Homo sapiens: one gene and its partners. The protein of the gene in region 1 binds, or shares a complex with, the protein of each later gene. Each region holds a gene or a part of one and is shown in the gene's direction. Other genes may lie near its edges.

The links.
Region 2: the proteins of YWHAG (region 1) and CAMKK2 are in contact, whole or in part, in a crystal structure (PDB 6Y6B), measured with the Homo sapiens proteins. Residues at the interface, in NP_036611.2 of Homo sapiens: Ser46, Val47, Lys50, Asn51, Arg57, Arg132, Tyr133, Gly174, Leu177, Asn178, Val181, Glu185, Ile222, Leu225, Asn229, Trp233; in NP_001257414.1 of Homo sapiens: Leu99 (codon at 5,624), Ser100 (codon at 5,627), Leu101 (codon at 5,630), Gln102 (codon at 5,633), Glu103 (codon at 5,636), Arg104 (codon at 5,639).
Region 3: the proteins of YWHAG (region 1) and CFTR are in contact, whole or in part, in a crystal structure (PDB 5D3E), measured with the Homo sapiens proteins. Residues at the interface, in NP_036611.2 of Homo sapiens: Lys50, Arg57, Arg61, Lys125, Arg132, Tyr133, Leu177, Asn178, Val181, Glu185, Ile222, Leu225, Asn229, Leu232; in NP_000483.3 of Homo sapiens: Arg766 (codon at 4,439), Gln767 (codon at 4,442), Ser768 (codon at 4,445), Val769 (codon at 4,448), Leu770 (codon at 4,451).
Region 4: the proteins of YWHAG (region 1) and HDAC4 are in contact, whole or in part, in a crystal structure (PDB 3UZD), measured with the Homo sapiens proteins. Residues at the interface, in NP_036611.2 of Homo sapiens: Asn43, Leu44, Ser46, Val47, Lys50, Asn51, Arg57, Phe122, Lys125, Arg132, Tyr133, Gly174, Leu177, Asn178, Val181, Glu185, Leu221, Ile222, Leu225, Asn229, Trp233; in NP_001365345.1 of Homo sapiens: Ser348, Pro349, Ser350, Leu351, Pro352, Asn353, Ile354, Leu356.

The regions. Positions count from the first base shown.
Region 1 is NC_000007.14:76,355,992-76,363,727, reverse strand, and holds the start of YWHAG (14-3-3 protein gamma), read left to right. Parts: upstream 1-4,736; 5' UTR 4,737-4,919; coding exon 4,920-5,006; intron 5,007-7,736. UniProt on the Homo sapiens protein: Adapter protein implicated in the regulation of a large spectrum of both general and specialized signaling pathways. Binds to a large number of partners, usually by recognition of a phosphoserine or phosphothreonine motif.
Region 2 is NC_000012.12:121,272,181-121,279,855, reverse strand, and holds part of CAMKK2 (calcium/calmodulin-dependent protein kinase kinase 2), read left to right. Parts: intron 1-5,270; 5' UTR 5,271-5,329; coding exon 5,330-5,800; intron 5,801-7,675. UniProt on the Homo sapiens protein: Calcium/calmodulin-dependent protein kinase belonging to a proposed calcium-triggered signaling cascade involved in a number of cellular processes. Isoform 1, isoform 2 and isoform 3 phosphorylate CAMK1 and CAMK4. Isoform 3 phosphorylates CAMK1D.
Region 3 is NC_000007.14:117,588,025-117,595,699, forward strand, and holds part of CFTR (cystic fibrosis transmembrane conductance regulator), read left to right. Parts: intron 1-2,328; coding exon 2,329-2,415; intron 2,416-3,909; coding exon 3,910-4,633; intron 4,634-6,905; coding exon 6,906-7,034; intron 7,035-7,675. UniProt on the Homo sapiens protein: Epithelial ion channel that plays an important role in the regulation of epithelial ion and water transport and fluid homeostasis. Mediates the transport of chloride ions across the cell membrane.
Region 4 is NC_000002.12:239,397,905-239,405,990, reverse strand, and holds the start of HDAC4 (histone deacetylase 4), read left to right. Parts: upstream 1-4,970; 5' UTR 4,971-5,013; exon of another isoform or gene 5,014-5,614; intron 5,615-8,086. UniProt on the Homo sapiens protein: Responsible for the deacetylation of lysine residues on the N-terminal part of the core histones (H2A, H2B, H3 and H4).

The DNA.
Region 1 (7,736 bases):
AGTCTCACTCTGTCGCCCAGGCTGGAGTGCAATGGCACAATCTTGGCTCACTGCAACCTCCACCTCCTGGGTTCAAGCGATTCTCCTGCCTCAGCCTCCCGAGTAGCTGAAACTACAGGCACACGCCACCACGCTTGGCTAATTTTTGTATTTTTAGTAGAGACAGCATTTCACCATGTTGGCCAGGCTGGTCTCAAACTCCTGACCTCAGGTGATGAGCCCACCTCGGCCTCCCAAACTGCTGGTATTACCGGCGTAAGCCAGTGCACCTGGCCATATTCATTTATTTATTTCCTATTCTCTCTCTATGTACTTATCATGTGCCAGGTACTCTGCTGAGCACTGAGAAGCCAAGGTGAGGATGAAAAAGACAAAACCCAAATCTGATCATTTTCTGCCATTGTTAAAATCTCTTCACAGGCTTCCGATTAATTTCAGAATAGAAATTTAACTCCTGGGGCTGCCATTCAGTGCCCCTCATGTTCTGGCCCCTGACTCTATCCCCAGCCCCTTACCCATCACCCAGACACCAGATACATCAGATTCTTTGCCTATCAATAAATATTTCAGGGGAGATGGGTGTGGTGGTGCATGCCTGTAGTCCCCACTACTCAGGAGGCTGAGGTGGGAGGATCACTTGAGCCCAGGAATTAGAGGCTGCAGTGAGCTATGATCGTGCCACTGTACCCCAGCCTGGGCAACATAGTGAGACCCCCACCTCTAAAAAATAAGTACATAAATAAATAAGTCAGGGAGGAACTTGCCTTTGAGTCTTGCTACCTGTGCCTTTGCCTGCTCTCAAATCCTACACTCATTTAAAGGCTGGGTTGGAAATGTTACCAAACTCCCTGGAGAAGCTTTTCAGAATCTCTTCCTATGCAGCCTGAAAGAAGTTATTTTTTAAACAAAATATTTACAGTGCTTAACACACTCTGAATTCCTTGAGGACAGGGGTCCTCCAGCATCTGGCATAGAGCCTGCAATATTCCCCCATGGAAACTCTTTCATTCCACATTCTCATCCACACTTCATGTTTCCTATTTTATTTTTCACTTCTTATTGATTTTTTTGTTGTTATTTAGTTTTTATTTCATAGTCACAAACTTAACTCTGCAATCCACCCAGACATGGAAGGGAATAAGAAAATCATGGGACTCAAAGGGAACTGTAGCAAGAACACAAAGATGATAGGATACTGGGAGCAAATGGGGTGGATGGATAGGTGCTCTCCTGAGCTACTGAAGGAATGGTCTGGTGGTTAAGATAAAACACAAGTCAAATTTACTAGAGTTGTCCACAGTCAGCAATGGTGATTTTATTTTATTTATTTATTTATTTTTTAGAGGGAGTTTCACTCTTTTTGCCCAAGCTGGAGTGCAATGGTGCAATCTCAGCTCACTGCAACCTCTGCCTCCCAGGTTCCAGCGATTCTCCTGCGTCAGCCTCTGGAGTAGCTGGGACTACAGGCACCTACCACCACGCCCAGCTAATTTTTGTATTTTTAGTAGAGACAGGGGTTTCACCATGTTGGCCAGGCTGGTCTCGAACTCCTGACCTCAAGTGATCTGCCCACCTCGGCCTCCTAAAGTGCTAAGGTTACAGGCGTGAGCCACCGCGCCCGGCCATAGCAATGGTGATCTTCTTGCTGGTCTTGCCATTCCTGGACTCGTAGCGCTCCATGGCCTCCACAATATTCATGCTCGCTTTCACCTTGCCAAAGACCTCCATGCTGGCCATCTAACCACTTAGTCTTGGCAGTGCAGATGAAAAACTGGGAAGCATTTGTGTTGGGTCCAACATCTGCCATGGGCAAGATGCCAGGATCTGTATGCTTCAGGATGAGGTTCTCTTCATCGAATTTCTCCCCATAGATGGACTTGCCACCAGTGCCATTATGGTGTGTAAAGTTACCACCCTGACACATAATCCCTGGAGTAATTCTGTGAAAGTAGGAACCCTTGCCGGGCGTAATGGCTCACACCTGTAATCCCAGCACTTTGGGAGGCTGAGGCGGATGGATCATGAGGTCAGGAGTTCGAGACCAGCCTAACATGGTGAAACACCGTCTCTACTAAAAATACAAAAATTAGCTGGGCGTGGTGGTGCGCGCCTGTAATCCCAGCTACTTAGAAGGCTGAGGCAGGAGAATCGCTTGAACCCGGGAGGCAGAGGTTGCAGTGAGCCAAGACTGCACCACTGCACTCCAGCCTGGGCTACAGAGCGAGACTCTGTCTCAAAAAAAAAAAAAGAAAAAGAAAAGAAAAAAAAAGAGAGAGTAGGAACCCTTATAACCAAATCCTTTCTCTCCAGTGCTCAGAGAACGAAAGTTTTCTGCTGTCTTTACAACACTGTCTGCTAACAGCTCCGATATGTTAACATGGCTTTACAGTTTAGATGAGAGGTCACTTCTTTTTTTTTTTTTTTTTTTGAGACGGAGTCTTTTTCTGTCTCCCAGGCTGGAGTGCACTGGCACAATCTCGGCTCACTGCAAGCTCCGGAGAGGTCACTTGGCTTCTTGGTTTCCATGCCCCTAACCTTGAAGGAGACGCAGCCCAAGGGCTCAATAGTAATGTCAAAGAACACGGTGGGATTGACCATGGCCAGTAGTAGAGTACTCCTGGCAGCAGCAGAGTCTGCAAAGCTCACTTTTTTTTTGTTTTGTTTTTTGATATGGAGTTTCGCTCTTGTTGCCCAGGCTGAAGTGCAATGAAACGATCTCGGCTCACTGCAACCTCCACCTCCCAGGTTCAAGCAATTCTCCTGCCTCAGCCTCCCAAGTAGCTGGGATTACAGGTGCCCACCACCACACCCAGCTAATTTTTGTATTTTTAGTTGAGATGGGGTTTTGCTACGTTAGCCAGGCTGGTCTCGAACTCCTGACCTCAGATGATCCACCCGCTTCGGCCTCCCAAAGTGTTGGGATTACAGGTGTGAGTCACCGTGCCAGGCCAAAGCTCACTTCTTTTTTTTTTTCGAGACGGAGTCTCGCTCTGTCACCCATGCTGGAGTGCAGTAGAGGGATCTCAGCTCACTGCAACCTCCGACTCCCGGGTTCAAGTGATTCTCCTGCCTCAGCCTCCCGAGTAGCTGGGATAACAGGTGGGCACCACCACGCCCAGCTAGTTCTTTTGTATTTTTTGTAGAGACAGGGTTTCACCATGTTGGCCAGGATGGTCTCGATCTCCTGACCTTGTCATCCGCCCGCCTCGGTCTCCCAAAGTGCTGGGATTACAGGTGTGAGTCACCGTGCCCAGCCTTTAAAAAACTTTTTATTTTATTATTTGTTTTTGAAACGGAGTCTTGCTCTGTCGCCAGACTGGAGTGCAGTGGCGCAATCTCAGCTCACTGCAACCTCAAAACTCACTCCTTACTGACTTCTAGCATACTGTACATATCTCACCTATTTTCTTGGGCAGGGATTTTTGTCTGTTTTGTTCACTACTGTACCTCGTGGCTTAGAATAGGGCTTGGAACACAGTAGCTTCTCATAGATAATTGTTGAATACATAAAGTAAATAAAATGTGCAGTCAAAACTATCAGGCCTGCAGGCATGGTGGCTCACATCTGTAATCCCAGCACCTTGGGAGGCCGAGGCGTGAGGATCGCTTGAGCCCAGGAGTTCGAGACCAGCATGGGCAACAAAGCTAGACCCCCGTCTCTACAAAAAAGCAAAACAAAGCAAAAAAACCCATGCTATCTGCAAGCTATGTGGAATAATATGAACGAGAATATATCAGCGTGACCTCAGTAGGTATGTATGTCTTAGGAGGGGAGAGAAGGGCTGGACAACCAAGCCCTAGACGCAGCCCAGTTAGATGTGGAGTAGGCTCCTGGTAGCTGAACTCAATCTTTAGCACTCCACCCTGGAGAGGAAGAAGGGGTTCTCCAGGGTCAGCCAGCAGACAGCTGCATCCTTTCTGGAAATCAACCACTGTGGCCAGCCGGTATTTGTCGTTCGTCCATGTTTTCACCTATTCAGGCCCAAGAGCCTCAAGGTGGGGTGGGGGGTTTAATGGAAGCTCGTAGGGGGTGGAGGTGACAGTCCCCAGGGTCTGGCCCCTTAATTCGGCCATCCCGCGGGCAGGCACCACACTGAGAGTCTGGATCTACAATGGACGCGCCTCCTGTCCTTCCCCCACCACGACCTGCTACGTGATCTCGGAAACAGGGTCTAGGACTGAGGCCCCTGCCCCCTCCTCTCGTAATTTCCCGGAGAATATGGGGCGGGGCGGTGAATCAGCACTCGCAGGGACTGATGCAGCCCTGATCCCCGCCAGGGGTCCCCAGCGGCCTCGGGATTCGAAGCACCCCCCCCCGTCCTCCTGCGCCTGCGCGCTATGTCCGCTGGGAGTTGTAGTCTTGACCGCCCCTTTGTCCTTGGTCTCCTCAGCGCCTCAGTGCACTGCAGGTTACACTACAACTCCCAGGGGCCCATGCGTCCGAGGGCTGGCGGGGCGGGAGGCTCAAGGGGGAGGCGTAAGGGGGCGACTGGAGAAGCTGGGGTGAGGGAACTGGGGAGTGAAGTGAAAAAAGGGGAGAGTGGGGGCGCAGTGGGAAAGGACGGGGTGCCCGGAAGACGCGCAGTGAGCCCAGCTGGGGAGCGGGGAGTTCTAGCCGCGGCCGGGCTCGGGCGGGGCATGGGCGGGGCTTGCGGACGGGTGGGCGGGGCCTGCCTTCGTCATGCGGCGTGGGCGGGGCCGCAGGGGGTTGTCCGTCAGTGGCACGCACAGCAGCCGCAGCCGCCTCGCGCCCGGTCCCGCGGTCGCAGCTCCAGCCGCCTCCTCCGCGCAGCCGCCGCCTCAGCTGCTCGCTCTGTGGGTCGGTCCTCTCCGGCACTTGGGCTCCAGTCGCGCCCTCCAAGCCCTTCAGGCCGCCCCAGTGTCCTCCTCCTTCTCCGGCCAGACCCAGCCCCGCGAAGATGGTGGACCGCGAGCAACTGGTGCAGAAAGCCCGGCTGGCCGAGCAGGCGGAGCGCTACGACGACATGGCCGCGGCCATGAAGAACGTGAGTGTCTCCTCCCCTCCCCCGCCGCTCCCTGCCCCTCCGAAGACGCGGTCCTTGGCGTGGAAGGCCCGGGGCTTCGTCGCCCTGTCGCGATGGCGGGTTGACCGCCCCGTCTCGCTCACTGAGGGGGGCTGGGGAGGGTCCCGAGAGGCGACGGGAACCCGGGCTGTGACGCGGCCTCTTTTCGGAGTCCCCGTGGCCCCGCGGCGCTGCCATTCAGGCCCGGCGCGGGCGCGGGCCGGGGCGAGGTCCCGCGGGGCTGGACTTGGGAGCGGGGTCTCCGGCCCCCGCGGCTCTAGGGGTGCAGGGGACCCGAGCGGGGAGGCGTGCGCATCCTTTGTGCCCCACTTCCCCCCTCCTCCTAGCCTGGGCGTGGGGGCGGGGGACCGCATGGATGCGGTTCCTCTTTCTCTCCCTGGTGTCTGGGCGGCGCCTTTCCCATTCACTCAGCAGGTCTCCCGGTTTTCCACCTCCCCAGCCCCCCCAGAATCTTCCCCACTGTCTGTCCCGACACATCCCTGAGAATCTTCCCAGAAACATTGTATAGGGTCTCTTGAAAACCTGAGCTCCGTGGTGCAAAATCGAAACCACCTTGCTCACGTTTTTCTTAACAAAAGGCTCTTCTTTCTCCATTCGCCCAAAGCAAGTCCTCCGGCTTTTAGGAAGGGAGAACGTTTGTCTCGCTAGCGTTTTCATTGATCATTCTCAACATGTCATCTCCATTTTATTCCCTAATGTTTTTGTATTGAAAAGGGTAGGTATTGCCTGTAAAATTAAAAGGTGGTGAATGTAGCTGACTGGTTCGATTCGTGTGACATATGCCGTTTCTTTTTTGAATACAGGCACGCGTCTGTTGAAATTCCTATAAGTTGGGGGAAAAAATATTCTGTCTGATCTGATAGTGCAAACAAAGCCGTGGTGAGAGGCAGTATCAAGTCATTCCAGAAGATTCTGCATTTGTCATATTGCAGAGAGCCTAGACTGGGTGGAGGCTGGGAGGAGTTATTTTAAAGGGGAAAAAGTCTTTTTAAAAATTTTTGGTTGTTAGATGCATCTGAGGCTTTTTTTTGTTTAAGCGAGTACATCTTCATGCTGATGAAAAGAGAATACCGATCGCCAGTTGTCGCATTTTGTCTGGGTTGCAGATTCATCCCTGTATTGCACCATTTTGTCAGTAACACCACATTTATCTAATGGGCTGTCAACCAGTTTGATATTAGAGGAGGGGGAAGTATTGAGCATTATGAAATGAAAGGTAGAAAATTAATCTAATGATTTCGGGCCCCCACTATCTTAATATTTAATTTCCTGCCTTATGTAACAAAGATTTTCAAATTCATCTCCATTGTGAAGTGGATGCTGGAGTGTACCTTGCGTGTTACATCTTTTAAATGAAGCATTATTGATATTACAGATCAATTCTTGAATAAATTTACTGGTTCTCAAAAGAGGACAATGCTGATACCTTTATATTTAAAGCAGCTATGTTAACAAAGAAAGGTTTTTGTCTTATTGAAGAGAACTGATTCTGAAATTCGGAATACTGCTGTGGCCACAGTTGCTGTCTTACAAGGTTTTAATGCTTAAATGATGTAAGTTGCACTTCTAATAGGTATCAGTATTGGAAATATCTTCAGTTCGTGTTATTTAGACTCTTATAATTTTTCCATATTTCTTTTCCATATTTCTAGTTCCACAGGAAAGCGAGTGACCTCGCACCTATATCCATAGCAACCAAGTGATGTCACACACAATGACACAGAGGCTGCAATGCACCTAAGGGCTGGTAGGGAGTGTGCAAATGGCATTTATCCAAGGTAATGCAGAAATTAGCCGATAAGCCAGGTGGAATCGAGCACTTCATATTCCACTAGATGAGAATTAGTCCAAAAAATAAGGATATCATTTACCCTTAGACATGCAAATCTGTGACCTCTAGCTAGGCCTTGTTCACCCTATTGCTAGCTTTCTCACAAAAGTTTATAAGATGCTTTTTTATATTTTTAAACATTCATCTCATTTATTTAAAATACTGGGCAATGATGGAATAAAAGTAGAAATTTTAAACGATAATTTATGGAATAAAAGAAATTTTAAACAAGAATATAGTTTATGACACTAGTGCACAGATGGGATGTATACTTGTGTTTATTGCAGATAATTAATTTGGCAGGTTTTAATAAAAACCTTAAAAAAATGATGACTTCCTACTGAGTCATTTTCAGTTACTAGTAGGGAATGAAAACCCGTTCCAAAACCTTTTAAGTTGAGATTTGGGAAGTTTGTTTTTTACTAGATTTGTGCTTCTGCTCCTTCACAGTATAGAGGAAAGAACAGTTTGTAAAATAAAAACCTTTTTTCAAATCTGTTTCCTGTGACTTTAAGGAAATAGGCTCTGTCCCTCATTTTCCTCATCTGTAAAATGGGACAATACTTGAAAAAGTTGTGCGGATTCAATAAGAAATGTAGTAGGTGTTCCAAAATGGCAACTACCTAAGAAATTTTCTTCCTGTTTATAAAAGTCATCGTGGAGAATTTGGAAACTGCAGAGAAAGAAACCAATCTTACCACTCAAGTGAGCTCTCTTTTAAGGCCGAAATCATCCTGTTGATAAAGGGATTAAAATTTATTTGAGTTTAATGAAATTATCCTAGTGCTAACACTATTGGGATCTGTGCAGAATGATAGTTCTTTGTGGGTAACCAGGACAGAAGTACTGTATTGTGCAGT
Region 2 (7,675 bases), on another chromosome or scaffold:
TCCTGGCAGAGGAAGGAGCGTTTCCCTCATCCTGGCCCGGGTCCCGGGTCCATCTGCTCCAGGAAGGCTCTGGTGGCTCGTGATGAGCTGCCCTGTGAGAGGGAACAGGGTAGAGGCAAGGCCTTGGGGGATGGCCTCTGCCTGGATTTCATGGGGAAGGATGCAGGGCCAGGGCTGACATTTTGTCAAATCCAAGCAACTTTGCAAAAAAGTCCTCCTCTCACGCTCCGCCCTCTGGAATCGAATGCTTCACTGTCCTTCCCTGGCAGAGGGCCTGGTCCTGTGAGGGTTACATGGCCAGGCGGTTATCTCCGTGCTGGGTGCCTGATGAGAGCTCAGTTGAATGTTAGCCGTTGCTGTTTCCAGGCTAAACTATTGTCTTTTTGCATGATTTCTTCTGCACAGAGTGTTGGTAGCTTTCATCAGATCTTTGTAGGGTCTGTGACCCCCAAACCGTTCAGGACACTGGCCTAGACTCTAGGTGTCTGTGAGGCCAGAAGCCCCTGGATGCATCTCTTCCTGTCAGGGCCTGCGTCCCTGGGGCTCCTCTCTGCTGAGCTCTGGGGTTTCACGCTTGCCCTGCCAGCGCCGACGTCCCTGCCCGGGGTCTGAGCTGTCTCTCCTCTCCATCCTCCAACAGACCGCAGAGGCCGAGACTCCGTCAGAGCTGTGAGGGAGGCCCGGGCCAGATGCCAGCTTGCCAAGGAGGCCGATTAAAAGCAGCCTTGCTGGGGGCGGATGGCTCAGTGCCCTTGGCCTGGTGTAGAGTTCGATAAGCAATTGTTTTCCTGTTGGTGAGAAAAAAACAAATCTCCATTGACTTTCCCAGGCACTGCTCAGCCTCATTTTCTTCTCAGGAACTCTTGCAGCCCTATCAGAGGCAGCTCTAGGATAGGGGAGAGACTGACTGCCTGCCCTGGGGGACGCAGGCCACACAGCCAGGGCTGAGGGACACACTTAAGAGCAGGCCAGCTCGCTTGGACATTGGTCCTCGTGGGAACATTCCAGAGCATAGGCTACCTACCAGAGCAGGCCATGGGCATCTGTATTAGTCCGTTTTCACGCTGCTGATAAAGACATACCCGAGACTGGGCAATTTACAACAGAAAGGTTTAACTGGACTTATAGTTCCACTTGGCTGGGGAAGCCCCATAATCATGGCGGAAGTCAAGGAGGAGCAAGTCCGGTCTTACATGGACGGCAGCAGGCAGCGAGAATGAGGAAGATGCAAAAGCGGAACCCCCTGATAAAACCATCAGATCTCGTGAGGCTTACCACCATGAGAACAGTATGGGGGAACCCGCCCCCGTGATTCAATTATCTCCCACTGGGTCCCTCCCACAACACACGGGAATTATGGGAGTACAATTCAAGGTGAGATTTGGGAGAGGACACAGAGTCAAACCATAGCATCCAACAGGTGTTTGTTGAAGTAATAGTTTTTGAGTACTTAACCACTTGCAGGGCATGATTCTGAGTGCTTGGTTCATCTAATCCTATGACTATCAGATGGGCACCAACTTTACAGGATGTCAATGACCTTAAGCTGTTGAACTTCAGGGTATCTTGAGTTTCCTCTTCTGGGACATAAGGACCATGAGAAGGAGAAGTAAAGTAGCAGCAGCTAGGGCCATAGAGAAATATCAAACTTGAGTTGTATTCTCTCATTGATGGGGAAACTGAGACAGGGACAGAGTTGATGATTTCTTTCTGAGATACAGTAAGGGGGAATGGGGGACAGAGAAATAGGAGATAAGACCAACTGCTCCCCTCTCCTGACCTCCTGCCCCGTCTGATCCCGTAGCATCCTAGGCCTTATCATCATAACTCCGATCATGGTTACAGGTATTTTCTTTCCTTTAAAACACTTTTTATTTATTTATTTATTTTAGATGGAGTCTTGCTCTGTTACCCAGGCTGGAGTGCAGTGGCGCAATCTCGCCTCACTGCAACCTGTGCCTCCCGGGTTCAAGTGATTCTCCTGCTTCAGCCTCCTGAGTAGCTGGGATGACAGGTGCCCAACACCACGCCTGGCTAATTTTTGTATTTTTAGTAGAGATGGGGTTTCACCATATTGGCCGGGCTTATCTGGAACTCCTAACCTCAAGTGATCTGCCTGCCTTGGCCTCCCAAGGTGTTGGGATTACAGGTGCGAACCACTGCATCTGGCCTGAATTTGACTATTCTAGATACTTCATGTAACTGAAATCTTACAACACTTGTCCTTTAGTATCTGGCTTGCTTCACTTAGCGTATGTCTTCACGGTTCGTCTGTGTTGTAGTGTGAGTCAGAGTTTCCTTCTTTTTTGTGGCTGTATAGTATTCTGTTGTATGGCTCTGCCACATTTTGTTTATTCATTCGTCTGTTGATGGACACTTGGTTATACCTTTTGGCTATTGTGAATGATGTTGCTATGAACATTAGTGTACAAGTATCCGTTTGAATCCCTACCTTCAATTCTTTTGGGTCTATACCTAGGAGAGGAATTGCTGGTTATATGGCAACTCTACGTTTAACTTTTTGGGGAGCCACCAGGCTGCCTGATTGTAGTTTGAATTTGCAGTTCTCTTACTGTGAGGTTGAACATCTTGCCGCATGATTGGACTCTTTGGCGTTCTCTTACCACACACTCTGTGTGCATGAGTCAGGCCCGTGTCAGGGCTGGGGCGTTGGGTTTTCCCTTTTGCCTTTCCTGTTGGGCTTTCCCTGCCACGTGCCTGGCGTAGTAGCTATTTCATCAGTTCTTCTGGAAGGACCGTTCCGAGAGCGCTGAGGGCCATTTTCTGCCTCTCAGCCAGATCCTCCAGGGAGCTCTGGCTTTCCGCTGTCTGTACCTTCCTCTCTTTTACCCCACTACCTCCCAATGTCATCGGAGATACCATTTTATTCATTCATAAAATCTCTGCTGAGCCCTCACTGTTTTCCTGGGACATCTAGAGAGACCCCCCCCCCACCCCGCCCTTTTTTTTTGAGATGGAGTCTCCCTCTGTTGGCAGGCTGGTGTGCAGTGGTGCAACCTCAGCTCACTGCAACCTCCGCCTCCCAGGTTCAAGCAATTCTCCTGCCTCAGCCTCTCCAGTAGCTAGGATTATAGGCATGAGCCACTACACCTGGCTTATTGTTGTATTTTTAGTAGAGACGGGGTTTCACCATGTTGGCCAGGATGGTCCAGAGAGACCCTTTGTGATGTGGGTGATTAGCATGGAGTGGCCATCATCCACAGGTGTCTGTCCACAAATGTACTCCCTGAATTCCAGTGGTACCTGTGACATTTGTCCAGCAGAATTTGTCAAACACGTTAAGCAAAGGTTAATGTTCTGTCCCAGAGACGGTAAGAATTGACAGCCTAAGGGGATGTGTTAATCTTTTTTATTTTTATTTTTTGAGATGAGTCTTGTTCAGTCACCCAGGCTGCAGTGCAGTGGTGCGATCTCGGCTCAGTCATTGCAACCTTCACCTCCCGGATTCAAGTGATTCTCCTGCCTCAGCCTCCCGAGTAGCTGGGATTACAGGTGCCCACCACCATGCCCAGGTAATTTTTGTATTTTTAGTAGAGATGGGGTTTCACCAGGTTGGCCAGGCTGGTCTTGAACTCCTGACCTCAGGTGATCCACCTGCCTTGGCCTCCCAAAGTGCTGGGAGGATTACAGGTATGAACCACTGTGTCCGACTTCTCTCTCTTTTTTTTTTTTTTTGAGATGGAGTCTCACTCTGTCATCCAGGCTGAAGTGCAGTGGCGTGATCTCGGCTCATTGCAACCTCCGCCTCCCGGGTTCAAGTGATTCTCCTGCCTCAGCCTCCTGAGTAGCTGGGACTACAGGTGTACATCACCACACTTGGCTAATTTTTGTATTTTTAGTAGAGATGGGGTTTCACCATGTTGGTCAGGCTGGCCTTGAACTCCTGACCTCATGATCCACCCGCCCTGTCCTCCCAAAGTGCTGAGATTACAGGCGTGAGCTGCCGTGCCTGGCCTTTTTTAAAAAATTGAGATATAAGTTCATGTAACATAAGTTGGCCATTTTGAAGTGTATAGTTCAGTGGCATTTAGTACGTTCACAATGCTGTGCAACCATTACCTCTATCTAGTTTCAAAACGTTTTGATCACCCCAAAAGGAAAACCTGTGCCCATTAAGCAGCCATTCCCCACACCCACTAATGTCACCACCCCCATAGTCCTAGGCAACCATTAGTCTACTTTCTGTCTCTGTGGAGTTGCATATTTTAAAAATTTCATATAAATAGAATCATATATATGTGACCTTTTGTGACTGGCTTCCTTCAGTTAGCATAATATTTTAGAGGTTCATCCATATTGTGGCATATACTTGATTCCCCCCGACCTTTTTTTTTTTTTTTTTTTTGAGACAGTCTTGGTCTATTGCTGAGTTGCTGAGGCTGGAGTGCAGTGGCATGATCTCGGCTCACTGCAACCTCCGCCTCCTGGATTCCAGCGATTCTCCTGCCTCAGCCTCCTGAGTAGCTGGGATTACAGGCACACGCCACCATGCCCGGCTAATTTTTGTATTTTTAGTAGAGATGAGGTTTCACCATGTTGGCCAGGCTGATCTGGAATTCCTGGCTTCAAGTAATCTGCCTGCCTTGGCCTCCCAAAATGCTAGGATTACAGGTGTGAGCCACCGTGTCCAGCCCTGACCTGCATTGTTAATGCCCAGCATTTAAAAATAAAAAGTCAGGCAAACTTATTAACCTCCTTAGGGCTTCTCTTGGGAAAAACAAAGGGAAGACCAGCAATAGTAGGCCCAGATTCCTGCCGAGCAACAATTGGCTTGAGCTGGAAGCAGCTGTCAATTCTGTAGGGGATATGTGTGCTCTATTTGGGGGTTTTCTTATACTTGTTCCTATAGGAATTGAGTTAGGAATTATTGTCATGGTATGTGAGAAGTGGTTCCAGCTACTTGGGAGGCTGAGATGGGAGGATCACTTGAGCCTAGGAGTTCAAGGGTACAGTGAGCTATGATCGCACCACTGTACTCCAGCCTGGGCAACAGAGAGAGGGAGAGACCTTGTCTCAAAAAAAAAAAAAAGAAAAAAAAAGAAAAAATAATAAAAGAAAAAATATAAGAAGATGCAGACTCTGCTTTTCTGTATAGACTCAGAGATCAGATCACACCATGTTTTGCAAGATTTTTTTAGGATGTCAACTGGAGGCAGGAATTAGACAGCAGCCTGGGCCAGGAGGAGAGGGGATCCTTTCCTGTCCCTGCCCGTAGGAGCTGGGCCAGCTGACCCTTTCTCTTTCTGCAGGTGGCTCCGCTGCCGGATGGGAGTGCCCCAGTGTGCTGGATGAAGCTGGCGCATGCACCATGTCATCATGTGTCTCTAGCCAGCCCAGCAGCAACCGGGCCGCCCCCCAGGATGAGCTGGGGGGCAGGGGCAGCAGCAGCAGCGAAAGCCAGAAGCCCTGTGAGGCCCTGCGGGGCCTCTCATCCTTGAGCATCCACCTGGGCATGGAGTCCTTCATTGTGGTCACCGAGTGTGAGCCGGGCTGTGCTGTGGACCTCGGCTTGGCGCGGGACCGGCCCCTGGAGGCCGATGGCCAAGAGGTCCCCCTTGACACCTCCGGGTCCCAGGCCCGGCCCCACCTCTCCGGTCGCAAGCTGTCTCTGCAAGAGCGGTCCCAGGGTGGGCTGGCAGCCGGTGGCAGCCTGGACATGAACGGACGCTGCATCTGCCCGTCCCTGCCCTACTCACCCGTCAGCTCCCCGCAGTCCTCGCCTCGGCTGCCCCGGCGGCCGACAGTGGAGTCTCACCACGTCTCCATCACGGGTATGCAGGTGCGTGAGCCGGTGGTGAGCCAGGTCCTAGGGGTCCCTGGTGCCCTTCCCTGCCCCCAGCAGGGCCTCTGTGGAAGGTTGGGCTCCCCCAGAAGGATCTGAGTGCCACGGTTGACCTAGGAGTTGACTCCAGGGAACCTTGGGGGCGGCTGGGGCCAAAAAGGGGCCCTAGGGGGGTCGTGAATCAGCATGGGGAAGGGAAGGCAGTCAGCAAAGGGTGGGTCATGGAGCCGATTACCAGTGTGGAGTGTGGGCCGCTGGGGCTTTTTCCTTCCGTGGGACCCTGGGGAACAGCACAGAGCAGCAGCCTCAGTCATCCCACCAGGGGCAAGGGAGCTGGGGTATTTATACTCATGGGTGAGGGCTGCTGGGGCAGGTGTGTGTGACCCCCTGTGGGTGTGGACAGAGCAGTTGCAGGGCCGGAGGGAGCCTCCAGCAAAGAGACTGAGGTGTGGGCGAAGGTGTGATGGAATGAGGCGGGTCACTGAGAGCCTGGCGACGACCCGCCTGGCCGAGCGTGTGTTGGCACCAGGCACTGGGTTCAGCACTTGCTGTGCATTTCTCACAGGACCCTTACCGTAAACCCTGCGGGGATACAGAGAACTCAGATCCTCACCAGGGTTCACAGGGCCCTGTGTGGTCTGACCCTTTCCCATCCCTCCTGCCATTCTGCTGCCAGCTCCCTAAGCTCCCTCTGTTCCTGCCTTCACATTCCTCGGAATCCAAGCTCTTGCCTTGGGTCTGTACTCTCGCTGTTCCTTCTGCTTGGAACCACCTCCCCCACCACCCCATGCCAACTTTGTAAGGCCTATTCCGATAATGTCCAAGTCTCAACTCCAGTATCACCTCCTCCAAAAGGCTTCCCGGGCCACCATCCCTAAAGCACCCTCCAGCCTCTCTCTGCCCCATGGCCCTATTTGCTTTCCTTCATAACGTTAATCAGCATCTGATTATCTGTGCGTTGGTTTAGTTGTTTATTGCCTGTCTCCACCCAGCCAGAACGTAAGCTCCATAGGATCATTTCATCCACCTCCACACCCTATCCCATCCCCAGAGCCTAGCACAGTACCTGGTGCATAGTAGGAGCGCAAAAATATTTGTTGAAGGAACGAATGAATTTAATTGGAAGAAGACCCAACATCAGGATGCCTTTCTAAAGGGGCTTTTTTTTGTTGTTGTTGTTGAGACAGAGGGTTGCTGTGTTGCCCAGGCTGGAGTGCAGTTGCGTGATTTTGGCTCACTGCAACCTCCACCTCCCAGGTTCAAGCTATTCTCCTCCCTCAGCTCATGAGTAGCTGGGACTACAGGTGTGCACCACCATGCCCAGTTAATTTTTTTTTTTTTTTTTTTTTTTAAGTAGAGATGGGGTAATGCCATGTTGGCCAGGCTGGTCTCGAACTCCTGACCTCAGGTGATCCACCTGCCTCAGCCTCCCAAAGTGCTGGGATTACAGGCATGAGCCACTGTGCACTGCCAAAGGGGCTGATTTTGAAGGGGCTATAGGGACTACATTTTGAAGGCCAGGAAAAACTTTCATAATTGGAGATGAAAATTGGGCCCTGGAGAGTTGAGAGGAGGGAGAATTCACAGCATGAGCCAAAAACAGAGCTAGGACCTATGAGCAATGGCTCCTTTTTAGCTTAGCTTCTTTCACAGCATCATGATTTTGAGATTTATCCATGTTGTGGCGTATATCTGTAGTTCCTTTTTATTGCTGAATAATTTCAATTGTATGGACGTACCACAGTTTGTTTATTCATTTACCTGTTGAAGGACATTTGGATTGCTTCCAATTTTTTATTATTACAACTAAAGCTGTTATTAATATTTATATGCAAGTCTTTGTAAACACATTTTCACTTCTATTGGGTAGAG
Region 3 (7,675 bases), about 41 Mb from region 1:
TTATGGTTACTCAGAATCTGTGCCCGTATCTTGGTGTCAGTGTATTTGTTTGCCTCATAGTATAGTTTACTACAAATGGAAAACTCTAGGATTCTGCATAATACTGGACAGAGAAGATGTAAATATCTGTTAGTTCCATCATAGACCCTGCCACTCCAATGTACACACCAGCTTTAGGCTTCTTGGTATAGATAAACATACATTTTCAAAATTTTTCATCATAATTTTCATAACAAAATAGGAAGGCAAATGATGTCACTTGGCTTAAAATCTATAATATTTAAAATAAACAGGACAAATGCATTAACATTGTTGGGGGAGGAGGTCCCTTAGTAGAAACACTCTTGGTCCAAGCATTTTAAAGCTGTCAAAGAGATGTAAATATAGATAATGTATGTCAAGGAGAGAGCTTTGTGGTTAAACTGTAACTTTCAGTTTAAACAATTATTGGTGACTCTGATGTCAAATGTTTCTCAAGCTTTATCTGAACAAAATTCTTCTCACTTTGTTGCCAAAGTCGTTAACAAGAAATCACATTGACTCATTGATGTTTTGGCTCCTTTCCCTTACTTTCTGTTGCTTTCCAAAAGCTGAGACAGGAAACTAACCCTAACTGAGCACCTGCAATTGCCTGGTAGTATTCTAGTCATGTGTGTACTTTTGTGTGTATGTAATCCCCTTACAGCTCTGCAAAGTAAGAATTGTTCTCCCTGCTTTACAGAAGAGATCATAAGATAATTGAGGCTGTTAGATGTTAACTTGCCAAAAGCCATACAGGAAAATGGTAGAGTCACAGTTTGAACCAGGTCCTTTTGATTCTTTACATTAAACCATGCTTTGATCTTGGAAATACACTGTAAGGCAATAAATCAATAGATACGGATAATTCACAGGCTTCTAAATAAATGGAAGTTGATTGTTTTTATCTGTGAGCCAAAGTAAGACTTATTCTAAGAATTCCACAAATTTAGATAAGATAGAGTATATGGCTTCTAGACATCCAACATAGAACTGAGTTTGTGTTATCAGTTTAAGATTTGGTTTTGCTGTAAGGTGCACACACTTTGAGGAACTAAAAATAATTGTCTGTTCTTATTCTGATCAGAATGTGTAATGTGTTGTCCAGTTTTGGATGATGAATTTCTTATTTCTAATCTCATAAGAAACTTGTCATAGATGTGAGGGAGAGAATTAAGAACAGAGTGTGGGGAAGAAACTGTGTACATTTTGATGGGATCCATTATGTAGCTCTTGCATACTGTCTTCAAAAATAAGTTACACTATAAAGGTTGTTTTAGACTTTTAAAGTTTTGCCATTGGTTTTTAAAAAAATTTTTAAATTGGCTTTAAAAATTTCTTAATTGTGTGCTGAATACAATTTTCTTTATTACAGAAGTACCAACAATTACATGTATAAACAGAGAATCCTATGTACTTGAGATATAAGTAAGGTTACTATCAATCACACCTGAAAAATTTAAATGTTATGAAGAAATTATCTCATTTCTATTAATATGGGAACTGTGTCTTCATCTTTATTACTGTTCTAAGGTCAACTCAATGTAGATTTTACTTGCTTATGGTTTCATATTTTAGCTAAATAGTAAAATAATATGGATATACATTTTGTTGTGACTTACTCATACTTTCCTTATTTGGAACTTTTATGAATATGATATAGAGACTGAAACTACAAGGAACAAAATGCAATATCAATTATACAGTTGTGGCAGCACTGCTATCAATTTGTTGATAGTGGTTAACACTTAGAAAAACATTTTAAAAATAATTTCACATAAGTAATGTAATTTATTAGCTGTCTCTGACATTTTACAGTTTGGAATAGTTTATTTTCTTTTTGGTGTCCTCACCAAAACCCAACATCTTCAAGGGCAGGAACTGTATAATTTTTGCCATTGTATTTTGAGCACATAGCATGGTACTTGCCTCTAAATAGATACTATTGTTAAAATATTTTTTAAGGTAATATTTTAAAGTGTATGCTATGGTACAGTTCAGTTTGTGACTTTTGCTAGTTTATGCCACTTACAGTTAGCAAAATCACTTCAGCAGTTCTTGGAATGTTGTGAAAAGTGATAAAAATCTTCTGCAACTTATTCCTTTATTCCTCATTTAAAATAATCTACCATAGTAAAAACATGTATAAAAGTGCTACTTCTGCACCACTTTTGAGAATAGTGTTATTTCAGTGAATCGATGTGGTGACCATATTGTAATGCATGTAGTGAACTGTTTAAGGCAAATCATCTACACTAGATGACCAGGAAATAGAGAGGAAATGTAATTTAATTTCCATTTTCTTTTTAGAGCAGTATACAAAGATGCTGATTTGTATTTATTAGACTCTCCTTTTGGATACCTAGATGTTTTAACAGAAAAAGAAATATTTGAAAGGTATGTTCTTTGAATACCTTACTTATAATGCTCATGCTAAAATAAAAGAAAGACAGACTGTCCCATCATAGATTGCATTTTACCTCTTGAGAAATATGTTCACCATTGTTGGTATGGCAGAATGTAGCATGGTATTAACTCAAATCTGATCTGCCCTACTGGGCCAGGATTCAAGATTACTTCCATTAAAACCTTTTCTCACCGCCTCATGCTAAACCAGTTTCTCTCATTGCTATACTGTTATAGCAATTGCTATCTATGTAGTTTTTGCAGTATCATTGCCTTGTGATATATATTACTTTAATTATTATTATACTTAACATTTTTATTTACTTTTTGTGTTAGTATTTTATTCTGTCTTCTCCTTAGATAGTAACCTTCTTAAGAAAATATATATGCTAAGTGTTTTACTGGTTTAATATGCTTAGACTACTCATCTACCTCAATACTTCCTTGGAGATCTCCTCCTCAGTCACACAGAGCTCAGGACTTATATTTCCTTGGAACTCCTGTTAGGGTCCAATGTACATGAAATTCCCTAGACAGACAGACAGTCAGTTATATGGCTTGATTTCAAAGTTTCAAAATGATTTAATGGACTATCAAGTAGTTTATTAGGAGAACAGTTATTATACTCTTCTAAAAATAAAGACTTTAAGCAATAAAGATGTATATGTATATAAAATGGCTGGGTTATTCCTAGAAGTACCTTTCTTAGAATTTAGTTAAATTTAATATCCAAGATACTATCTTTTCAACCCTGAGATTGTGAAAAGTAACTTCTATCAATATAAACTTTACTACATTTGTATTGTGTTAGTGTGTTACAGTATAATCTAGAACAATGTGTCTTTCTATATGATATATGACATTTTAATGCCTAAAAAAACTGATATGTCTTAGATGATTCTAGTCAGGATTTACTTCTAGAATAGATTAAAATTCTATTTGAGGAGAGTCAAATTAATTATCGAATTCTCAGTTGTTATTATTGCTGTTTTATTTTTAGTGAAACAGATTAGTCTTAATGTAAACACTTGAGAAATAAATTGATGGTCAACCTAAAATGTAAAAAAGAAATTAATAGAAAATTTAAAGAGCAACAAAGCTCTGACATTTAAAAGAAATGAAGTACAAATCTCTAGGGACCTTAAAGATCATCTAATAATTTCCTCATTTTCTAGATAAATAAACTGAGAGACCCCGAGGATAAATGATTTGCTCAAAGTCAAATATCTACTTAATATAGGAAATTTAATTTCATTCTCAGTCTGTTAACATGCAACTTTTCAATATAGCATGTTATTTCATGCTATCAGAATTCACAAGGTACCAATTTAATTACTACAGAGTACTTATAGAATCATTTAAAATATAATAAAATTGTATGATAGAGATTATATGCAATAAAACATTAACAAAATGCTAAAATACGAGACATATTGCAATAAAGTATTTATAAAATTGATATTTATATGTTTTTATATCTTAAAGCTGTGTCTGTAAACTGATGGCTAACAAAACTAGGATTTTGGTCACTTCTAAAATGGAACATTTAAAGAAAGCTGACAAAATATTAATTTTGCATGAAGGTAGCAGCTATTTTTATGGGACATTTTCAGAACTCCAAAATCTACAGCCAGACTTTAGCTCAAAACTCATGGGATGTGATTCTTTCGACCAATTTAGTGCAGAAAGAAGAAATTCAATCCTAACTGAGACCTTACACCGTTTCTCATTAGAAGGAGATGCTCCTGTCTCCTGGACAGAAACAAAAAAACAATCTTTTAAACAGACTGGAGAGTTTGGGGAAAAAAGGAAGAATTCTATTCTCAATCCAATCAACTCTATACGAAAATTTTCCATTGTGCAAAAGACTCCCTTACAAATGAATGGCATCGAAGAGGATTCTGATGAGCCTTTAGAGAGAAGGCTGTCCTTAGTACCAGATTCTGAGCAGGGAGAGGCGATACTGCCTCGCATCAGCGTGATCAGCACTGGCCCCACGCTTCAGGCACGAAGGAGGCAGTCTGTCCTGAACCTGATGACACACTCAGTTAACCAAGGTCAGAACATTCACCGAAAGACAACAGCATCCACACGAAAAGTGTCACTGGCCCCTCAGGCAAACTTGACTGAACTGGATATATATTCAAGAAGGTTATCTCAAGAAACTGGCTTGGAAATAAGTGAAGAAATTAACGAAGAAGACTTAAAGGTAGGTATACATCGCTTGGGGGTATTTCACCCCACAGAATGCAATTGAGTAGAATGCAATATGTAGCATGTAACAAAATTTACTAAAATCATAGGATTAGGATAAGGTGTATCTTAAAACTCAGAAAGTATGAAGTTCATTAATTATACAAGCAACGTTAAAATGTAAAATAACAAATGATTTCTTTTTGCAATGGACATATCTCTTCCCATAAAATGGGAAAGGATTTAGTTTTTGGTCCTCTACTAAGCCAGTGATAACTGTGACTATAAGTTAGAAAGCATTTGCTTTATTACCATCTTGAACCCTCTGTGGGAAGAGGTGCAGTATAAATAACTGTATAAATAAATAGTAGCTTTCATTATTTATAGCTCGCAAAATAATCTGTATGGAAGTAGCATATATAAGGTATATAAACATTTAGCCTCTTGATAGGACTAACTCACATTCTGGTTTGTATATCAGTCTTGCCTGAATTTAGCTAGTGTGGGCTTTTTTTTATCTTGTGAGTTTGCTTTATACATTGGGTTTCTGAAAAGATTTCTTTTAGAGAATGTATATAAGCTTAACATGTACTAGTGCCAATCTTCAGACAGAAATTTTGTTCTATTAGGTTTTAAGAATAAAAGCATTTTATTTTTAAAACAGGAAATAATATAAAAAGGAGAGTTTTTGTTGTTTTAGTAGAAAACTTAATGCCTTGGATGAAATGAGCCATGGGCAGGGTTGTAATGAATTGATATGTTTAATAGTATAGATCATTTGTGAATAATATGACCTTTGACAAGACACAAGCCATTAACATCTGTAGGCAGAAGTTTCCTTCTTTGTAAAATGAGGGAATAAAATAGATCCCTAAAGTGTGTAATTTTAGTATTTCTAAACTTTATGAAGGTTTCCTAAATGATAATTCATCTATATAGTGTTTTTTTGTGTGTTTGTTTGTTTGTTTGTTTGAGATGGAGTCTCGCTCTGTCACCTAGGCTGGAGTGCAATGGTGCAACCTCGGCTCACTGCAACCTCTGCCTCCTGGGTTCAAGCTAATCTCCTGCCTCAGCCTCCTGAGTAGCTGAGATTACAGGCATGCACCACCATGCCGAGCTAATTTTTGTATTTTTAGTAGAGAAGGGGTTTCATCATGTTGACCAGGCTGGTCTTGAACTCCTGACCTTGTGATCCACCCACCTCAGCCTCCCAAAGTGCTGGTATTACAGGCGTGTGCCACCACGTCCAGCCTGAGCCACTGCGCCCAGCCCATCTATATAGTTTAATATCAATCTAAATGAATTTCTCAGTCCTGAGCCTAAAAATTTAGTTGTAAAGAATGATATCCTTGACTAATAATAGTTTCTATTAATGGATTGCATCTAGTGCTAGGTGGCATATATTTAGTCCCCACAACTACCCTGGAAGGTATTTAAAATTTTTCACATTTGCAGATAAGGAAACTAAAGTTCAGAGTTCGGCAACATGCTTGAATTCAAGCAGCTCCTAGGATGTTAATGGTGGAGGTTGGGTTCAAATCCAGATCTGTCTGACTCAAAAAATGCATACTCCTAACCAGTGCACTATATCCCAATTCCATAGGAGCCCTTCTTTGTGATTCATAGCACTTTCCCATGAGTTTTGTTGATTTTGTGAGAAACAAAACTCTTTTTCCTTTGGACTGTCTGGAATCTCTCTTTTTCAAATTTTTGAAATGTATTTCTATGCCAAAAGACAAAGATTTCTAGAGGAATATGCCTAGGATGAGAATTATGTAATTTAAATCACAGCTGGAAAGAGAGAAAGTCCTAAGTTACTAAGAAATGTTCAAACACAAATGAGCTTTCAGTCTATTGGAAGACCTTTATAGCTAGAAGTATACTGAACTGTACTTGTCCATGGACCCCTGAAGAAACAGGTTAAATCAAAGAGAGTTCTGGGAAACTTCATTTAGATGGTATCATTCATTTGATAAAAGGTATGCCACTGTTAAGCCTTTAATGGTAAAATTGTCCAATAATAATACAGTTATATAATCAGTGATACATTTTTAGAATTTTGAAAAATTACGATGTTTCTCATTTTTAATAAAGCTGTGTTGCTCCAGTAGACATTATTCTGGCTATAGAATGACATCATACATGGCATTTATAATGATTTATATTTGTTAAAATACACTTAGATTCAAGTAATACTATTCTTTTATTTTCATATATTAAAAATAAAACCACAATGGTGGCATGAAACTGTACTGTCTTATTGTAATAGCCATAATTCTTTTATTCAGGAGTGCTTTTTTGATGATATGGAGAGCATACCAGCAGTGACTACATGGAACACATACCTTCGATATATTACTGTCCACAAGAGCTTAATTTTTGTGCTAATTTGGTGCTTAGTAATTTTTCTGGCAGAGGTAAGAATGTTCTATTGTAAAGTATTACTGGATTTAAAGTTAAATTAAGATAGTTTGGGGATGTATACATATATATGCACACACATAAATATGTATATATACACATGTATACATGTATAAGTATGCATATATACACACATATATCACTATATGTATATATGTATATATTACATATATTTGTGATTTTACAGTATATAATGGTATAGATTCATATAGTTCTTAGCTTCTGAAAAATCAACAAGTAGAACCACTACTGATATTTTATTATTTCATATTACATATAAAATATATTTAAATACAAATATAAGAAGAGTTTTTAATAGATTTTTAATAATAAAGGTTAAGAGATTCGAAAGCTCAAAGTAGAAGGCTTTTATTTGGATTGAAATTAAACAATTAGAATCACTGTTGATATTTTATTATTTCATATTACATATAAAATATATTTAAATATAAAGATAAGAGTTTTTAATAGATTTTATAATAAATGTTAAGAGATTAAAAAACTGAAAATAGAAGGCTTTTATTTGGATTGAAATTAAAGGCCAGGCATGGTGGTTCATGCCTGTAATCCCAGAATTTTAGGAGACTGAGTGGGGAGGATTGCTTGAGCCCAGGGGTCAAGACCAGCCTGGGCAACA
Region 4 (8,086 bases), on another chromosome or scaffold:
ATTGAATCAGTCACCCAAGGCTGAAAGCTGGGCAAGGGGACCCAGGGGAGCGTCCATCACCAGCTGTTTTGTTGGTCTCTTGCTACTTATTTCAATGAGCTGGTTGTGTCATCCCTATCTGGAGCAGGTCTTGGGTTAAAGTGTTGGAGGGCAGAGGGTCCGCTGAAAGATATGGAAGAGTTGAAAGTCTTAGGGCTGTAATTTTCTGTCCTTGTGATAGTTTGCTCAGAATGATGGTTTCCAGCTTCATCCATGTCCCTACAAAGGCATGAACTCATCCTTTTTTATGGTTGCATAGTATTCCATGGTGTATCGATGCCACGTTTTCATAATCCAGTCTATCATTGATGGACATTCGGGTTGGTTCCAAGTCTTTGCTATTGTGAATAGTGCGTACCACTCATAGGGTGGAATTGAGCAATGAGAACACGTGGACACAGGCTGGGGAACATCACACATCGGGGCCTGTCGTGGGGTGGGGAGAGGAGGGAGGGACAGCATTACATATCTAATGTAAATGACGAGTTAACGGGTGCAGCACACCAACATGGCACATGTATACGTATGTAACAAACCTGCACATTGTGCACATGTATCCTTGAACTTAAAGTATAATAATAATAAAAAAAAGAAAGTTTTAGGGCTGTGAGAAGAGCCCTGAACTACCCCACCCCTGCTCCCTCCACTGCAGCCCAGGCTGCACCTCCCACATCTGTCCTACAGCCCCCGGCTCGTGCCCGCTTGACAGAGTCTCTCAGACCTTGCTGTCTCCTTAGTGAACTTCATGTCCTTCTTGAATTTTTTTAAATAATTATTTTTTTACAAAAGAAAAACATGTTCACTGAAGAATTAAGAAAACAAGTGAGCAAAAGAAAACAAGAATCTCTCATTTTCCACTTAGAAGAGGACACATTTTTCCTCATTGTTTTTGTGTCTATAAATGCTTTCATTTGTAAAAATTACATCACATTGTAATGAGGTCTTCTTGTCTTTCTTTTCCCTTGAAACTATAAAGTGAATTTCTTTCCCTGATATAAAACCCCTTATTTTTGGTGATATATGCATACATATTCATCCCAACCAACCATTGTTTCTGTGGACCTTTTAGCTAAATGTTTATCAGCATCCATGTTTGTCTCTTTGAATGAGGTTCTAAAATTGCAATCACTAGGTGAAAGAAGGTGCAAATTTTGCAGGTTTTATTTATGAGTGTGGTTAAGTAGCTGTCTGAAAGTTTCTATCAGTTGACACTCAGTTGCTGTATAATAGCGTTTATTTCCACACATTTGCTTTTATCAAACAAAGCATTGCACTTCTTTTATTAGAGAACATCCTGTCATGTTTATGGGCGTTTCTTCTTTTGTCTTTGCCTCTCCTTGTCCCTGCCTGCTTTATGTATGGGCTGCTCCGCTCTGAAAACCCTCCTGCCTGTGAAGATCAGCCTCTACGAATCCCACGCAAACGCTTTCCCCACTCACTTGTCTTAATTTTATTGTGTTCTGAAGCACCAGAAGTCCCCCCTTCCCCTCCAAACTGGGGCAGCCACTGCCTTCAACAATTTTTTTTTCTTCTGAATTAAAATCTTCCTGAGAAAGGCACAGCTCTTAAATTCAACGAGTTTTGATCGGTACGTACCCCTATGCGATCTACACCCCAGACAGAAAGTGTATTATCTCCATTGCCCGGGAAGGTTCTCGTGTCCTTCCCAGTCCACCCTCTGTAGGCCCCCAATCTGGAGAGAACTGTTCTGATCTCTACCCCATATTTGGCTGAATTTCATATTAACAGTCATACAGTGTAAACCCTTTTGTATCTGACATCTTTTATGATGTTCTTGACGTTCAACCGTCTATAACAGTTCATTCTTTTTTATTGCTGAGTAATATTCCCTTGTATTTTGCAGTTGGGGTTTATCCATTTTCCCACTGATTATACACTAAATTTTAATTACAACATAGCTAAATTCTCAATTATTTCCCTTTATGACTGTTGACAATATTCTTTATATTCCACAACCCTATAGAGATGTCCAGAGTTTTTCCTTAGTACTTTTTTTAAAACTGAAGTCTTTACTCCATTTGATGAGTAAAGATTTCAACTTTAATATCTTCTCTTCAAATGATTAGCAGGTACCCTACCATATTGCTTTCTCACTGATTTGAAAAGCCACTTTCATTATACTTTAAATCCCTACAGGGGTGGTATTAAAACTAGTCAATAGTTGGTGAGGCACAGGCACTGACCAGCCTGCAAAGCTGCCCATTAAGAACAGCTGGAGCACACTGATCATACACATATCGGCTGGGTATCAGCCTGGAGTCAGTACATTTGCTTGGGGCCATTCCTTTACTTTCTATTATTTTGCATTGATCTGGGCCAATATCACGTTGTTTTCATTTCGGAGCCCAGATAACATGTTTTTATTTTCTGGAAGCACAGTTTCTCCTTCATTACTCTTCTTTTTGACTGCTCTCAAATCTTTATTCTTCCAGATGAACTATTTAACGATTTTCACAATTCCCAGGAAGTTCTGTTGGAACTTACTGTTACATTTAGGTACTTAAAATGTTTTTGCTAATTGAGAATGTTTCATATTTTCTAACACATATGTAAGTGCTTAGCACAAAGCTCACCACATACTGAATATGCAACAATTATTTAATTACCGATTGAATGTTGTCAGTTATCTGAAAGTTACTGTTATTTGTATATTTTATAATTGGCCAGCTTGCCGATCGTAGCCAGTCTAGGAGTTCTACCAATTTATTGGATCCACCAACCCTAGATTTTAAAATTTGAGTCTTTGATGCTGGTTTCTTTCAACTGTGAGAACACGGAGATTCCTTTGAGTGTGATTCATTTGACTCTGTCAAATACCTGTATGTGAAGTCCCAAGCGCGAATGCTCCCAGGCATTGGGGTTGTCACCCCACCTTTCTCCTTATACACAGCTCACAGGATAGCGTGTTTGCTTTCACTGCACACTATCGTACTGAATTGCTCTGCACTGGCTGTGCACCGGTCTCCTTCAGACAGCCCCTCTGACACATAATGGCAGACACAGCCACCCAGGCCAAGTTTCTCTTTTCCAGACATGGCGAGTGAGGTTCTTGCACCATCCACCCAACGTCTGCGTGGTGCCTCACTCTGCTGGAGTGCCTCTCAGGACTCCTGTGAGGACTAAATGGCACGCAGCAATGGGGCTACCCATTCCTTCTAATGGAAATCTACTTTTTAAAAATTACCTCTGCAAGCATTAGATCCCAGAGCTCGTTTCACGTGACTTTTTGCGCAGGCACTTCTCTTTGTACGTGAAAAACTAACTTTGGTAGACTTACAGGCAGGTTTTAATATTTTCTCGTGATTGTATGTTTTTGAGAATCCTGTCAAATGATACTGAATCTTATCTAGATGTTAGCTAGCTACAGACCCTGTTTCATTCTACATGAAAATTAGATAGTGCACCGTTTCCATCAGCAGCCAAGTCTCCAAAACCCCGTAATTGCTCTCCTTTTCTTCAGCTGTATCTTGTTTTAAAGTTCTCTAATTCACCATTCCTTTCCTTCTAAGTTTAGCCTAAGCATTTCTTGCAATGACCAAAGTTTTCTAATTATTAATGAGATATTTAAGGAAATGTAAAATTGGCATTTTTATTTTGCTAACTGTATTTTTATCCACATAACTAGTTTCCCCCACCAAGAATCACAGGTCGAGAATGCTGTAAAAACGGATCCTTTCTCAGCTCCTAAAAGGAATGGCCTACAATCGAAGCGAACGCGCATCTCCGCCAGGTCCGCAACCACAGGCCCACGCCGTCGGGCCCCACGAACCGGCGCGCGCTGTCAAAGGCGCTTCCTCCCTGGAACGCGGGATTCCGGGGACAGTGTGTGCACTCAAGTTGAAAAGTTGTCATACTCCTGTTGGAAAGAAACGGAAACATCACCACCAGGAGGGTGGCCACTGAAGACCCTCGCCGACACCTGCTGGCAACCAAAGGCGCTTCCGGGGATCTACGGGCCGACCTGTAACTCAACACAAGCCTCCCAAGCCCTGCGGCCTTAAAACAACGCCCACCCGGGCGGTGCGCCGTTCCCGCCACCTCCACGCCTGCCTGGACCCGGACTCGAGACCCTGGCGGCGGGCCGGGCTCCCTCCGCCTGAGCAGGGACGCGGCGAGCGCATCCCACGACCCTCGGCAGCCGTTGCAGGCCTGGCGGACCTACACCCCACACCCTCACGGCCGCGTTCCCGCCGCGGGGCAGGGCGAGGCCCACGGCGCCTGCGCACTCAGTGACCGGGCCGCCCTGCGCCTCCGTGCGCACGCAGCACCACGTGACCCACTGCCAGTATCCAAGATGGACGCCGCGGCGAGGCCTGGCCGGCTCCCCGCGTTAGCCTGCACCCCATTGTGTGCCCTCTAAGCGCGAATTAGGCTCGCAGACATGCGGTGCTGACCGCTAGGCAGCCATGCGGGCTACCGAGTGCGACCGGACACGGCCGGGGCCCGTGTTTACGGCCACTACTGGCCCCCGGTCCCTGCGCCTCCTCAACCGCGAAGCACCCAGCGGCTGGCGCCTGGAGCGTCTTTTGGTACGCCCCACCCTCTAGAATTGGCAGCTCCAGCAGCCAATGAGGTCCAGGACGCGTGCGGGGAGGCGGGCAGGGGTGGAGCCTCTCTGCCGCTCATAGGGCATCCGGCCCCGCGGTTGAGCAGCCGCTGGGCGAGGGGTGGGAGCAGACGGGCTGTGCGCAGGTTTCAGCGGGCCAATGGAAGGCCGGCCAGGCGCCCGGGGCGGGCGGGCGGGAGGCGGGGCCGAGCCGTAATTGACGAGCTCTTCATTAGAAACCAGGCGGGAGGGCGGGGCCCGCAAGGGGAGGTGACGCAAGGCTGCCGCAGCCAATGGTTGGCGAGCCGCCGGCTGGCTGGGCGGGGCCGGGCCGGCTGACGGGCGTGCGGGGTGGCCTATCGCCGCCTGGCTCGACGCTGGAGTGGGGAGAAGCATCATGGTTCAACGTGGGTCAATTTTTTGTGAATGAGGAGGGGAGGTTGTGGGGCCGCCGCCGCGGAGCACCGTCCCCGCCGCCGCCCGAGCCCGAGCCCGAGCCCGCGCACCCGCCCGCGCCGCCGCCGCCGCCGCCCGAACAGCCTCCCAGCCTGGGCCCCCGGCGGCGCCGTGGCCGCGTCCCGGCTGTCGCCGCCCGAGCCCGAGCCCGCGCGCCGGCGGGTGGCGGCGCAGGCTGAGGAGATGCGGCGCGGAGCGCCGGAGCAGGGCTAGAGCCGGCCGCCGCCGCCCGCCGCGGTAAGCGCAGCCCCGGCCCGGCGCCCGCGGGCCATTGTCCGCCGCCCGCCCCGCGCCCCGCGCAGCCTGCAGGCCTTGGAGCCCGCGGCAGGTGGACGCCGCCGGTCCACACCCGCCCCGCGCGCGGCCGTGGGAGGCGGGGGCCAGCGCTGGCCGCGCGCCGTGGGACCCGCCGGTCCCCAGGGCCGCCCGGCCCCTTCTGGACCTTTCCACCCGCGCCGCGAGGCGGCTTCGCCCGCCGGGGCGGGGGCGCGGGGGTGGGCACGGCAGGCAGCGGCGCCGTCTCCCGGTGCGGGGCCCGCGCCCCCCGAGCAGGTGGGCTCCGGGCCGCCGGGAGTGAGGGCGGGGGCGGGCGGGCGCCGGGGCCGGCCGGGCGCCGTTTATGTAACTTTGTCAAATGCTGTGAGTTTGCAGAAAAACGTCCCTGCCGGGGGTCCGCGGCCCCGCGCTTGTCGTCGCCGCTGCGAGCGCCCGGGGGGTCGCGGGAGGGCGGGGGGCTGCCCGGGACCCGCTCGGCTCAGCCCGCAGGGCGCCAGCAGGCCGAGACGGGGCCCGGTCCCGCTCGGGGGTGGGATCCGCGTTTGCCGGCGTTGCGAAAACACACCACGGAATCATAAGCAAATTATCTCGTATTTACATTGAGCGTTGAATTATTTGACACTGTTATAGGAGGAGACCGTGCGTATCAGTTGGAAAGGCCGGGGGTGGAACCCAGTGTACTCATTTAATGCACATCAAAAATTTGTAATAACTTGAGGCAGCTGATATGAGTGTTTTCTTTATTGCATGTTGTAAATTGACCTGCTGTGACACAGTTTTCAAATAAAGCGTTGCAGAAATTAAACTTAAGTTATTTTAAAACTAATGACTTTCTTCACTAAATCCTAATTGCATGACTGTAGAGACCTACCTAATTGCTTGCTGAGAGCAGTTCTGCTTGCTCTCCGTGAGGGAGGAAAGGGCCTGTGCAGTCACTTTGCCGCCCCGTTTTTCTCTGTTCAGGCTTTTCTGTTTATTCCCACAAATCACCGAAGCAGTTAAGGCCTGGGAGTAAGCCTGTAAACAGTCCTGGCCCAGCGCCAGCCCAGCAGGACTGGGGGGATACTGGCAGGTTTGCACCTTGACCTGGTTTCACTTTTTCTTTTGTAATATGATCGTGGTTGCCTGGAGTTTTAATTGCTTCTGATAATTCTGTGCATTATTTTCGGGACTGTCCAAAGAAGGCTGGTGTGGTGGTTTCAGGACCTAGCCAGGAAAGGTGGTGGTGGTGGCTGGGGAGAGGGAGGGTGGAAGGGAGGGAGATCGAATTAAGAAAACTCAGCTGCTTGTACACAAATATACACTACAGCAGTTACAAAGCAACAAAAGTTATTGCAGAATTTTGCAGTAACTATGGCAACACAATTACTCTATTATAATTGGAAATGCAAAATGCCACCGAGTTAGAAGTTTCATCAGAATGGAGTTTTGGATATCAAAAATATGTGAAATTTAATTTTTTTTCAGGTAGCTCTTGTGAATTCTAAAATCTGTGTTCAATTACCTATTTTTAAGACTGATCGGGCTTTCCCAGATATTCTACTCTCTGGGATCTGTGGCATCTTTCCCCAGAAGAACTCACATTTGTGTGGGAGGGAAGTATTTTCATGCCTTAAAAACACACACCCCAACACATTGTAAGACTTCTATAGCTTTCTGTGTTCTGGGCTTTTATTTTAGAGATCAAATCCCATCCTAAAGAGAGCAGTAATCAATTAGAAAAGAAGCCGGCTGTACTCAGCAGGCAGATGTAACGCTGCCCTCTTTAGGGTTCTTTCTCCTGCAAGGGGAGCTGGCAGCAGGCATGCCCCCGGGGGAGCCCTGGGCTAAGGGGACGGGGTGGAGGGAAGATGACTGGACTGCATATGGGCCTGGAAGGCCTAGGGACGAAGGACAGATGTGGCCTCGGAGCCCTGCACCAGAGAGAATGTTCTGTGTTCAGCAGCTTCCTAGCCATGCAAAATAAAAATCCCCAAATGCCATATTCTCGGAGGCCTTGGGGGCTGTTGCTGTAGCAAGATGGACAGGACAACCTGGCACGCTGGCCACGTGCGGCTCAGGCAGCCCATCTGGACTCTGTGGCCAGAGACCTCGTTGAGAAGAATGCCCTATGGATGTTTACCAGGAGGACTCTAGTGCTGGAAGTTTCCACACATTGTGGGGTTGCTGCAGTTTAATTTTGTTATAACTCTTTCCTTTTAACTACTGCATATTTATGCCCAGTAATCGACTTCCATTCTCCAGCTTCATTGTGAGGTTTCAATGCAGCATGAATGGCTTTGAATTCCAATCCTTTAATGTTGGGGGTGGCACCAAAGGAAAGGCGACTTTATGCTGTCTTAATTGCCGGAGCAGAAGAAACATTTCATCACTCCTGTAGAATTCATCCATACCATTCTCTATTGAAAACGGCTGGGCTTTCATAGCTCAGAAGCTGCCATGAGTAATATATTAATACCTGATGTAGGGCGCGAAGGAGCCGCAGAGGCCGAGAGAACTGCCGTTGCTGAGAGGCAGCGGGGCGACAGGCTGTGGCCGGGCTTTCCTCCGAGGCTCAGAATTGATGACTAGCTGGGGATGGGGGAACTGAAGGGCGAAGGGGCCCAGTCTCCACCTAAGCTTGGGGCTGTGGAACCGAGACTGAGCCCCTGCCCTGTTGTTGGCAGCCCCCAGTCTGTCCTGGGGTAAGGAGTCGGAAAGGATGGATTTGGAGGGAGTGTTTGTTTTGATTTCAGGTGGTCAGCATAT